3 separate regions of the Homo sapiens genome follow, and regions 1 and 2 are each linked to region 3. The links come from fine-mapping of genetic effects on gene expression. A gene starts in region 3. Each other region holds a variant in brackets. All regions are shown on one strand. Distances are between the middles of the regions. Region 1 overlaps CRISPLD2 (cysteine rich secretory protein LCCL domain containing 2). Region 2 overlaps CRISPLD2 (cysteine rich secretory protein LCCL domain containing 2). Region 3 holds the start of CRISPLD2 (cysteine rich secretory protein LCCL domain containing 2).

Region 1 (4,000 bases), 90 kb after region 3:
CACCCTGGCTGCCATCACTCTATAAAAGTGCTTCATGAGCCCAGACCAAAAGCCCACAGTGAAATGAAGTACCCTTTTGTAAATAGCATTTTTTTGCAGAAGGTGAAAATTCCACTCTCTACCACCGGGCCAGCCAATAGATCACTTTGGTGAATGCTAGTTTCAAATTTGATTCAAAATATTTCTTAGGTGAAAGAACTAGCAGAAAGTCAAAAACTAAGATACTGTAGACTGGACAAGAAATTCTACCTGGGCACCTAGGTGATGCCTTCTTTCTTTGATTGCCTTTCTAATAAATGCAGAATCTGAAGGTAAATAGGTTTAAAACAAAACAAAAACCCACCCCTTTAAGGAGTTGGTAAAAAGCAGTTCAACTCTTAGCTTGACTGAGCTAAAATTCACAGGACTACGTGCTTTGTGCATTGTAGTCTAGTCGTAATTCATAGGTACTGACTCCTCAGCCCCAAATGTCGGAGAGGAAGAATTCGGTCAGCCTGTCAGGTCGTGAGTCCAGTTACCACCAAACATCTGGGAAACTTCTGGGTGCTGGGTGCTCTGCTGCTGGACTTTTGTGGCTGTGTCTGTGTCTGCAAGATAAATTAGATCGCCCTGTGGGGTTTGCAGAATTAGTGAAGGGTCCAGGACGATCCCAGTGGGCTCGCTTCCAAAGCATCCCACTCAAGGGAGACTTGAAACTTCCAGTGTGAGTTGACCCCATCATTTAAAAATAAAGTCCCCGGGTTCCTTAATGCCTCCTTCACTGGGCCTTCCTAGCAGGATAGAAAGTCCTTGCCCAGAGCAGGACCTGGCTGTCTTTTTTTTTTTTTTTTTTTTTTTCCCGAGACCAAGTTTCACTCTGTTGCCCAAGGTAGAGTGCAGTGGCGTGATCTCTGCTCATTGCAACTGCCGCCTCCCGGGTTCAAGCAATTCTCATGCATCAGCCTCCCAAGTACCTGGGACTACAGGCGTGAGCTACCATGCCCGGCTAATTTTTGTATTTTTAGTAGAGATGGGGTTTCATTATGTTGGCCAGGCTGGTCTCGAACTCCTTACCTCAGGTGATCCACCCACCTTGGCCTCCCGAAGTGCTGGGATTACAGGCATGAGCCACTGCGCCCGGCCATGGACCTGGCTGTCTTTATCATCCCCACAAACATTTTGAAACTGGAATATTTGTCTTCAGAAAATGGAAACAAGACTATAAATGATAAGCCCTGTCCCTAGCACCACCTCTCCTGTGTGTGGAATAGAGGCCCCTCGTGCTACCAACACTTACCCTGTGTTTAAAAAGATCTTGTACCAAGCCAACGGCGTTCCTGGCTCTCCTGCCCACAGGATGAACATTTTCGGCTTCCTTAGGAGTTTTGCCCTACCGTATTCCAAAGCGTGTGCTGGTTTCTCATATTGTCTGTAGGCTCACTCAGCCCGCAGTTTATGTGTGTGCTTTTTTCTATGAAAAATGATGTATTTTGCTACTTCCTGTGTACAAAGTTTTATTGTAAATGTTTTTTGTGCTTTGCATGAACAGGGGCCACGTTGTTGCAATTGTTTCAGTAGAACTGGTTTGATTTCTAAAATGTTCCTGTAACATATCTTTTATGAACAAATCTGAACAATTTGTGAAATAAAACATTGAAAACCATCTTTCAGGCTCTGGACTGTTTTGTGTTGGCTGCTTCTGCTAGGATGTCTCATATACACAGAGATGCTGACAGCCAGGGCCTGGTGGAGACCTCCACCCCATCCGCGGGAAGGAGGGAGGAGCTTGCCAAAATGCAATTTCGGGCTCAGCAAGGCTGGGTTGGGGCCAGGGACTGTGAATTTCTCCCAAGATCCTGGTGATGCGAATGCTGCCAGTCCCCAGATCACACTCTGAGTGGTGGTGGGCTCAAGGCCATTCTGTCTAAGCTCCGGCTGCCCTAACAAAATACCATAGACTGGGTGACTTAACCCACAGAGATATCTTCCTCACAGTTCTGGAGGCTGGAAGTCTAAGATCAGGGTGCCAGCAGCGTTGGTTTCCTCTGCGGCCTCTCTTTGGTTTGCAGGTGGCTGCCCCTGGCCGTGTCCTCACATGGCCTTTCCTCTGGGCATGTACACTCCTGGTGTCTCTCTCTCTCTCTTATAAGGACACCGGTCATATTGGGTCTGGGCCCCACCCTTAGGACCCAT[T/A]TAACCTGAATTACCTCCTTAAAGGCCCTACCTTGAAATACACAGGCTGGCTCATGCCTGTAATCCCAGCACTTTGGGAAGCTGAGGCAGGAGGATCACTTGAGTCCAAGAGTTCAAGAGCAGTCTGGGCAACATGGGGAAACCTTATCTCTACAAAAAAAATACAAAAATTTGCCGGGCATGGTGGCGCATGCATGTAGTCCCAGCTACTTGGGAGGCTGAGGCAGGAGAATTGCTTGACCCTGGGAGGCAGAGGTTGCAGAGAGCCAAGATGACACCACTGCACTCCAGCCTGAGTGACAGAGCGAGACACACACACACACACACACACACACACACACGAAAGAAATACATTGGGGGTTAGGGATCGTTTTGTGTGGTTACAATAAGGAAATGATCAAAGTACGATTTCACAAATCACACAGTTTATTGCTACACAAAGATGTTTTTTCCTTAGGTTCCCAGTGCTTAAACAGGGAGAGAATGAGACCAAACCTCACAGAGAATACACTCGACAGACGAAGCCCATTAACCCCACAGTGGGTCAGTTCCAGAATGATCAAGGCCTACTTGCTCACTTAGGATGGAAGCAGGCCTCAGTTTGAGGTGCACCTTCTACCAGCCGTTCTTGGAAGCGCTGTAAGGTCCCTAGAAGGCAGTTCCAGCGCTGGCCAGAGGCTTCTGAGAGTAGCTCCAAGGCTGGCGGGGTGACCTGTCACAGCTGGAGCTCCCAGCTTTGGGAGAAGATGCCGAGGGTGCAGCCGGCCACAGCCAGAGCTCCCAAAGGGTCCGTCCCACTGGCAGGTTTGCATGTGTATGGAAGTCCAGTCGTGAGGGTCAGGAGCTCGCAGACGGGGTCCGATAAGGGGTGAGGCCACATTCTCCAGGGAAGAAGGGGCACACCAAGTTCTTAGCGCAGCAAAACGCGTCACCCACGTAGCAACCTGTGGAGGTGTCTGGAATCATTTCAAAGCCCTGTGGGCCGGGCACAGTGGCTCGTGTCTGTAATCTCAGCACTTTGGGAGGCCGAGGTGGGTGAATTGCTTGAGGTCAGGCGTTCGAGACCAGCCTGGCCAATATGGTGAAACCCCATCTCTACTACAAATACAAAAATTAGCCAGGCGTGGTGGTGCACGCCTGTAATCCCAGCTACTTGGGAAGCTGAGGCAGGAGAATGGCTTGAACCCAGGAGGAGGAGGTTGTGGTGAGCCGAGATCGCGCCACTGCACTCCAGCCTGGGCAATACAGTGAGACTTTATCTCAAAAACAAAACAAACAAAGAAAACCCTATGTGTTCAGGGTGGGAAATTTAGTTCGTAACGGTCACCTTCTTCCCAGGCATCAGCCCAAAGCAGCCCCTTTTCACCAAGCGCAGTCACATCTCGCTGAGTGCCTCAATGCACCAAAGCCCCAGAGCAATTTGGGGGCACGGGGCCGGCCTTTCCTCTCCCCGGTGAAGGCGCCTGCCTTCCTCTCAGGCTCATCTCTAGTGCGGTCCTTTTCCATGCGTGATGGGGATAGCTTTCCTCTTTAAGAAATACCAGGCTTTTAAAATGTCCATTTTAAAATGTTGAGTAAGTTAAGATTGTGCAGGTCAATTGCAAAAATCACCAAGATTGGATAATAAGGGCTGAAGTTTGCGAAACACTTCCGGCTCTGCCCACAGCATCCTCAGCGTATGGCATTTGTCCTGCGACATACAGATGGTTACTGCTCCTAATATCATTATTTTGACCAATGCATTTGGCATTCCCTGCACTGTTTTCTCCTCTAAAAGTGTCTCCCAGGCCTTCACTGCTTCAGCCACTGCTCTCCTGCCTTCTACCCC
Region 2 (4,000 bases), 85 kb after region 3:
TCCTGGGTTCAAGCGATTCTCCTGCCTCAGCCTCCCAGGTAGCTGGGATTACTGGTGCCTGCCACCACAGCCAGCTAATTTTTGTATTTTTAGTAGGGGTTTCACTGTGTTGAGCAGGCTGGTCTCGAACTCCTGACTTCAAGTGATCTGCCCACCTCAGCCTCCCAAAGTGCTGGGATTACAGGAATGATCCACCGTGCCTGGCCTAAAACCAGCCCATTTCTAAGTTCAGTTTGATGAGGTGGCACCTAGCAGGGTGACTCCGATCTGATTTGGTTTGGTCTGTTGGGCCTAGCCCAGTCCAAAACAATGGCCTCCCGTCAATTTAATGCTCCCCTCCTCCCACCTTCCGGGTCTCCTCTCCAGCCTGGCCCCTTCCTGGACCTCCCCCAAGAACCCAGGTACCCCCAACATCGGCACTGTCACAGAACATTCCGGAAAGTATCCTTAGAAGCCTGTAATCCCAGCACTTTGGGAGGCCGAGGCAGGCGGATCATGAGCTCAGGCGTTTGAGACCAGCCCGGCCAAGAGACCAGCCTGGCCAATATGGTGACACCCCATCTCTACAAAAAATACAAAAATTAGCTGGGTGTGGTGGCGCATGCCTGTAATTCCAGCTAGTTGAGAGGCTGAGGCAGGAGAATCGCTTGAACCTGGGAGGCGGCGGTTGCAATGAGCCGAGATCACACCGTTGCACTCCAGCCTGGGCAACAGGGCGAGACTCTGTCTTAAAATTTAAAAAAAAAAAAAAAAGCCCAAAGAGACTTAGTGACTTTGTCACACAGTTACTAAACGTTAGTGTAGGGATGGAGACTCGCGTCTGGAAGACATGCTCCAGAGGTGAGATTTGCAGAATGCCAAAGCAGGATGCATGGGAAATCTTATTCCCAAAAGCAGTGTTCAAAAACAGCTGTTTCAGGACTCCAGAAATACACCACAGAGTCATACAACGAACAGGGAGGTGTTTGTTCAAAAAAGTGTGGACCTCAGATAAGAACAGAGGGATCTGTGGTGTCTGAGCCTGGGACCGCTCCTGTTCACCCCACCAGCTCCTGTGGCTGGAAGTTCTACTGGGGTGGGGCTGTGCCATCCAGCGGCTTTCTTGATTTGAAGCAGAGCGAGGAAAACCACACACCTCTGGCCATTGTCAGGAACAGTATCAAACCTGGTGGCCAAGACACAGGAAGGCCAGTTGGTCCAAAGGTGCAGTTATCATCTGGGGCAGAAAATCAGGGAGGATCTAGAGAATGAGACAGCCGTGGTGGCCCTTGGTAGGCTCCCAGGCGTCCCTGGTGTTCTAGAAGGCTGTGCCCACAGCAAGAGGAGCAAAGCGGGAGGGGGCACTTAGGCTTCCCAATTCTGAAACATCCTATACAGCGACAGTGATCAAGATGGTGGTGCTGACATCAGGACAGACACAGAGATTAAGAGAACGTGATTGGGCCTGGTACGGTGGCTTACGCCTGAAATCCCAGCACTTTGGGAGGCCAAGGAGGGGAGGATCACGAAGTCAGGAGTTCCAGAGCAGCCTGGCCAACATGGCAAAACCCCATCTCTGCTAAAAATACAAAAATTAGCCCCGCGTGGTGGTGTGCACCTGTAATCCCAGCTACTTGGGAGGCTGAGGCCAGAGAATCACTTGAACCTGGGAAGCAGAGGTTGCAGTGAGCCAAGATTGCACCACTGTACTCCAGCCTGGGCAACAGAGCGAGACTCGGTCTCAAAAAAAGGTAAAAAAAAAAATTTAAAAAAAAAATTAAAAAAAAAAATGATTGGAAGTCCATAAAATAAATCATCACACTTCCAGTCAATTGATTTTGACATCGGTGCCAGGACCATTCAGTGGGCAGAGAATAATTTCTCAACAAATGATGCAAGGGCAATTAGATATTTACAAGTAAAACTGTGATGTTGGACCTTTGCCTCACACTATATATAAAAATTAACTCAAAATGGATCCAAGGCTGAAATGTAAGAGCTAAAAATTACAGATGTCTGAGAAAACAAGTATAAATCCTTCATGACCTTGGATGGTTTGCTAGATATGACGCCAAAAGCACAATCTATAAATGAAAACAAATTGATAAATTGTATTCTATCAAAGTTTAAAACTTTTATGCCTTAAAAGACACCATTAGGCCAGGCACGGTGGCTCACACCCATAATCCCAGCACTTTGGGAGGCTGAGGCAGGAGGATCACTTGGGCCCAGGAGTTTGAGACCAGCCTGGGCAACATAGTGAGACTCCATCTGTACAAAAAATAAAATATATCAATCAGGCTTGGTGACATGCTGCTCAGGAGGCTGAGGAGGGAGGATCGCTTGCACTCAGGAGGTCAAGGCTGAAGTAAGCCACGATCATGCCACTGCACTCTGGCCTTGGTGACAGACCTTGTGTCTAAAACAATTTTTAAAAATTGTCTAACACTGGATTGTGGAGATGACTGCACAACTCTATAAAATCTCTAAAAACCATTGAATTGT[A/G]CACTTAGAAAGGTTGAGTTTATACGGTATGTTAAACTTAATAAAGTTGGTTTGGTTTTTTTTTTGTTTTTTGAAACAGAGTCTCACTCTCTTGCCCAGGCTGGAGTGCAGTGGCAGAATCTTGGCTCACTGCACACTCCACCTCCCACGTTCAAGTGATTCTCCTGCCTCAACCTTCAACTAGCTGGGATTACAGGTGCACACCATCATGCCTGGCTAATTGTTTGTAGAGGCAGGGTTTCACCATGTTGGCCAGACTGGTCTCGAATTCCAGACCTCAAGTGATCCACCTGCCTTGGCCTCCCAAAGTGCTGGGATTCCAGGTGTGAGGTGTGAGCCACCGTGCCTGACCAATAAAGCTCTTTTTTTTTTTTTTTTTTGGAGACAAAGTCTTACTCTTGTCCCCCAGGCTGGAGTGCAATGCCTTGATCTTGGCTCACTGCATCCTCCGCCTCCCAGGTTCAAGTGATTCTTCTGCCTCAGCCTCCCGAGTAGCTGGGATTACAGGCGCCTGCCACCACATCCGGCTAATTTTTGTATTTTTCGTAGAGATGGGGTTTCACCATGTTGGCCAGGCTGGTCTCGAACTCCTGACCTCAGGTGGTCCACCCGCCTCACTCCCAAAGTGCTGAGGTTACAGGCATGAGCCACCGCGCCTGGCCTAAAGCTCTTTTTTAAAAACCATCTTTGATTAGCTGAAGGATTTAACTCCTCTTGTGAGAGGGCAGTTTTTACTAGCCATGGGACCCTGGGTAAATCTCTTTATTTCCTGGTGTCTCCGTTTCCTCCCCTGTGAACGAGCGATAACAGCTCCCTCAGGAGGAAGGTGGAAGGCGGTGAAGCACCTGGCATATGCAGTAGTGCTGAGATAGCACCTGTTCATCTCTCCCAAGACACCACTGTTCGGGTTGACAGGTGGTAGTGAAACCAAGCAGAATTCTCGGAGGGTGAGTCCAATCCAGACAGACTGGGTCCAGCAGATCCCTGAGTTAAAAGGAAATAACTTAACAGCCTTGACCTAGAATCAGATGGATGCTCATGTGCAGAGAAAATGGGATTTGCCACCTGTTCTCAACTCAAGGCAGGCTCTGTGTCTGGCGGCTTCAAGGAAGTGTCCCTTGGCCATGGCTCTTCCACTACGGGAGCAAGCAGGAGGCACCCAGGTCTCCCTGCCCACCCAGAGTCCCTGCAGGAGGCCCTCCAGATCTCTCAGTAACGGGCCCTCTTTCTTCTTTTTTTCAGCCTGGGGACTCCTCGGGATGGAAAGGCCTTCCGGATCTTTGCTGTCAGGCAGTGAATTTCCAGCACCAGGGGAGAAGGGGCGTCTTCAGGAGGGCTTCGGGGTTTTGCTTTTATTTTTATTTTGTCATTGCGGGGTATATGGAGAGTCAGGAAACTTCCTTTGACTGATGTTCAGTGTCCATCACTTTGTGGCCTGTGGGTGAGGTGACATCTCATCCCCTCACTGAAGCAACAGCATCCCAAGGTGCTCAGCCGGACTCCCTGGTGCCTGATC
Region 3 (4,000 bases):
GGTACTCAGAGGCATCTGTTTTGTTGTTGTTTGTTTGTTTGGTTGGTTGGTTTTGTTTTGAAATAGGGTCTTGCTCTGTCACCCAGGCTGGGATGCAGTGGCTCGATTTCAGCTCACTGCAACCTCCACCTCCCAGGCTCAGGCAATCCTCCCACCTCAGCCTCCTGAGTGGCTGGAACCACAGGCATATGCCACCATGCTGGCTACTTTTTGTAGCAACTGGATTTCATCATGTTGCAGGCTGGTCCTGAACTCAAGCCACCTGCCTGGGCCTCCCAAAGTGCTGGGATTACAGGCCTGAGCCATCGTGCCAGGCCTCCAAAGGCATCTGCTAACACAGATCTCTTCTCCCCTTGGATTTGTCTTTTGTCAATCCAAGGACTGTTGTTCTGGAACAGTCTTATTCACTACTGAGCCCTCCAGTGCTTGAAACAGAGCCCAGCACATAGTAGGTGCTTAATTATTGGATGACTGCATGCCAGTTGAGTGCCTCTGAAGAATGATGCTTCAAAGACTGAGAAAAGTAAAACAAAAAGAGGAAAAAAAGATAACAGAAAACATCTGCATTATTATTATCTTTTTGAGATGGAGTTTTGTTCTTGTCTCCTAGGCTAGAGTGCAATGGCGCCATCTCAGCTCACTGCAACCTCTGCCTCTCAGGTTCGAGCGATTCTCCTGCCTCAGCCTCCCAAGTAGCTGGGACTACAGGCATGCACCACCATGCCCGGCTAATTTTTGTATTTTTAGTAGAGACAGTGTCACCATGTTGGCCGGGATGGTTTCGAACTCCTGATCTCAGGTGATCCGCCCGCCTCAAACTCCCACAGTGCTGGGATTACAGGTGTGAGCCACCGCGCCCGGCCAGTCTGCATTATTCTGTATCTGCATTTGAGCCGCACCAAAATCTTAGGCAAGCCTTCCCTGTTTGAGTCCACGTCACGCAGGCAGCCTTCCATAGTCCTTGTTCCACCCATTCCCCATCCTTGTTTCTCCCACGTGCCCTAGCTCGTGGGGGCCCCAGACTCTGAGATCCCGGAGGTGTCTTGTTTGTGCCTGCTGTATAGCACAGGGCCCGGCACAGAGCGACTCGATGGGTATTTGGGGAATGAGTTAATGCTGGAGGAGCTAATTCCGGTGTCTTGGTGCGGAGATGAGCAGTGCGGACAGGCCCCCTCCTGCCCTTGGGCCCCAGCACCTTACCGCGCAGTGCCTGCATACCCGTCCACATTTTGTGACTGAGGCGGGAGCACGGGGCAGTCCCTTAGCTCTTAAGGAACGTGGATTTACCTGTTTCAAAGGTGATTTCGTCTGGCTCTAAATTGATTTCCGTATGTACCTGCACAGGTTAAAAATGCTAAATGCCTCCGGGCAAAAGAGATATGAACATGCTGCACTGCTCCTAGCTACGGGACTTGGGGCACGCTCTTCTCCAAGCCTCAGCTACTGGATCTGTGAAATGAGGTGATTTCCACCTCCCTGGATTCCTGGGAACGCGTCCTAGGGTCGTTGAAGGTAAAGTGCGGAGCCTGGATCCCCGCGCTAGCGGCCCCATCCGGAAACAAGTCTCCCTTTCTTCGTCTGCAAATTGGGAAGAGGGGGCCTAAGTTTTCTGAGCACGTGTAGAGGGTGGGAGTCACCTCAGTAACTGTGTACTCTGCACCGCGCCACAGTTCACAGCGCCCAGCCCTTGCGGATTTCATTTGCTAAAATCCTGGGAGGTCGCCTCCTTATTCCTATTTTCCAGTTGAGCTGCAGAGAGCTGGGGTTTGGTAAATTTGCAAGCCCCTTGTGGGAAGCGCTTGGCACCGCGCCAGGCGCATAGTAAGCGCTCAATGAAAACTATGCTTGTGTGGCCAGTGGCGAGGGAGCTGAGCGTCTCCTTGTCCCTAGCCGGCCCTGGAGGCCAGCGGCCCCGCCTTCCTCGCCCACCCGGCGCCCGCGCCTCAGCTGCCCCCCGCCTCCTTCAGCCCGCTGAGCCTGCGGGGCGGGGCCGGGGGCGGGGCCGGTGATGCTCGGTCCTACCAGCGCCGCCAGCGATCTGGGGGCGTGGCCTCCGGGCTCCGGGGAGCCTACAAGAGGCGGTACGCTGAGCCCCGGCACCCACTCGCATCCCAGGGCGTCTCCGGCTGCTCCTATTGAGCTGTCTGCTCGCTGTGCCCGCTGTGCCTGCTGTGCCCGCGCTGTCGCCGCTGCTACCGCGTCTGCTGGACGCGGGAGACGCCAGCGAGCTGGTGATTGGAGCCCTGCGGAGGTAAGTGTGATTTCCATGCTTCTCCCTTTTGCAAACTGTTACCCCCCCGAGAAGCTGGAATAACTAGGACAGATGCCACCTCGCAGGGCTGACTGTGTGCTGGCACCACACCGAGTGCTCTGCTTGCATAGCGGAACACAGCTTTGCGACATGCCCTTTTGCAGATGGAGAAACTGAGGCTCAGCGAGGACAACTCATTTGTCCAGGACCTCGCAGCCAGGACTCCAAGGACCCAGGATTCAACGCCGATCTGAGCGCAGAATCCTGCTCCTTAGAGGCTGTTTACTCTCTTGCCTTCCTCGTGCAGTTCACTAGCATTTGTTGCATTCCTGTGTTCGTAGTGGGTGTCAATAACTGGAAAGCTGATGGCATGGATATGGCAGGCATTAGAATGTGTCCTACTCATGTCTGGAGGACCAGGGTGATCTAGTGGCATGTGCATTCAGCTGCAGTTTAGAGGGCCACGCCCCTCTGTGATTTCATTTGCAAGGTAGCCTTCTTCCCACATTTCAGATGAAGATGCTGAGGGTCAGAGAGGTGAAGTAAGTTGTCCGGGCAGAGCCAGGGCTGGAACCCAGCTCTGTCTGTCTCCAGAGCTTCAAATGGATGTGTAGAGACTTGGGGCCATGTCAGGGTTCTGCAGTCTGGGGGAACACGTTTCTGGGTTTCTTTAGCCAGAGCGGGCACCTGCATAACTCCTGCGTGGGGAGAGTTACCCTGGAAGCGGAGGGCTCACTCTGGAGTGTGGGGGAGATCGGTCGTCCCACGTGGACAGAGCCAGGGCTAGTCCCTCATGTGCTGCAGACCCAGAGCCTCCCTTGCTAAGGCTGGGCTGGTGGACAAGCCAGGGAGGACTTCGCTGATGCCTGCTCATCGCAGTCCAACTTGAATTGGGCGTCTCTCAGCCAAAATGTGAGTTGCTGCCCTGGCTGAGAGAAGCATCCCGTGCAAATGCCTAGCTTGCCTTGCAACCGAGAGTGGGGTTGTGAGTTTCCCCTTTGGGCCTTTGGACCTCTTGCCCTGGTAGAATGGGGTGAGCCTGCTTTCCCCATCCAGGGTCTGATGTCTGACAGTGAGGAGAGCCTGCAGAACAGGACCGGGGCGTGGTCCTTTCCAGTAGACTGAGGCCATGAGTTGTGACTGTCGGCTGTCCCAGGGCTCCTTGGGTTGTATGCACCTGATTTTCTGCTTCTGCCCCTGATCTGGCTGTTCCCACTCAGGAGAAGGGGTGGGTGTGTGACTGTGTTGCCTGTGCGGCAGGCACGCGGTCTGTGCCACGCAGTTTACCTGTATTGTCATCGCTGCAACACCCCGGGGAGTAGGCCTCTTGATGCCCACTTCACAGCTGAGGAAACTGAGGCTCAGCAAGGTGAAGTGCTTGCCTAAGATCCCCCAGCTGGTATGGAATGCTGTCACCCCCAGGTGGGTCCTATCTGCACTCTTGACCCTGCTTTCTTTAAGACACTTCCCTGCCCACTGCCAACTCCACCCATGAACCTGACCTTCACACAGGTGATGTTTTGTCTTACAGGGGCTCCAGTTAAAACCACTGGACAATGTACCCAGGGAGGAGAAACCAAGAGGGTGATTTTGATTTTTTCAGAGTTTCTTAAGATGTGAGAGTAGGAATAGTAATAATGCCATTTGTAATAATACAAGCAGCTGACATTTACATGATGCTTAGTACAGACCAGACATGCCCAGGGTTTCCACGGATGAGCTCACTGCCTGCTCTATTAGCTGGGCACT

Evidence for each region.
Region 1: its variant is fine-mapped to the expression of CRISPLD2 in whole blood (TOPMed, PIP above 0.99).
Region 2: its variant is fine-mapped to the expression of CRISPLD2 in whole blood (TOPMed, PIP above 0.99).

What each region holds. Positions count from the first base shown.
Region 1 is chr16:84,907,867-84,911,866 of GRCh38, forward strand. CRISPLD2 (cysteine rich secretory protein LCCL domain containing 2) reads left to right here. Exons shown (of 15, transcript NM_031476.4): 15 at 1-1,642. Among named protein-coding and RNA genes, the nearest start is that of LINC02176, 18 kb to the right of the region's middle. RefSeq lists a silencer at 2,289-2,404. The variant T/A (reference allele first, on the strand shown) is at 2,173.
Region 2 is chr16:84,902,862-84,906,861 of GRCh38, forward strand. CRISPLD2 (cysteine rich secretory protein LCCL domain containing 2) reads left to right here. Exons shown (of 15, transcript NM_031476.4): 15 at 3,727-4,000. The coding sequence ends at 3,781. Among named protein-coding and RNA genes, the nearest start is that of LINC02176, 23 kb to the right of the region's middle. The variant A/G (reference allele first, on the strand shown) is at 2,485.
Region 3 is chr16:84,817,883-84,821,882 of GRCh38, forward strand. It overlaps CRISPLD2 (cysteine rich secretory protein LCCL domain containing 2), which reads left to right and starts at 2,103. Exons shown (of 15, transcript NM_031476.4): 1 at 2,103-2,251. RefSeq lists a silencer at 1,876-2,065.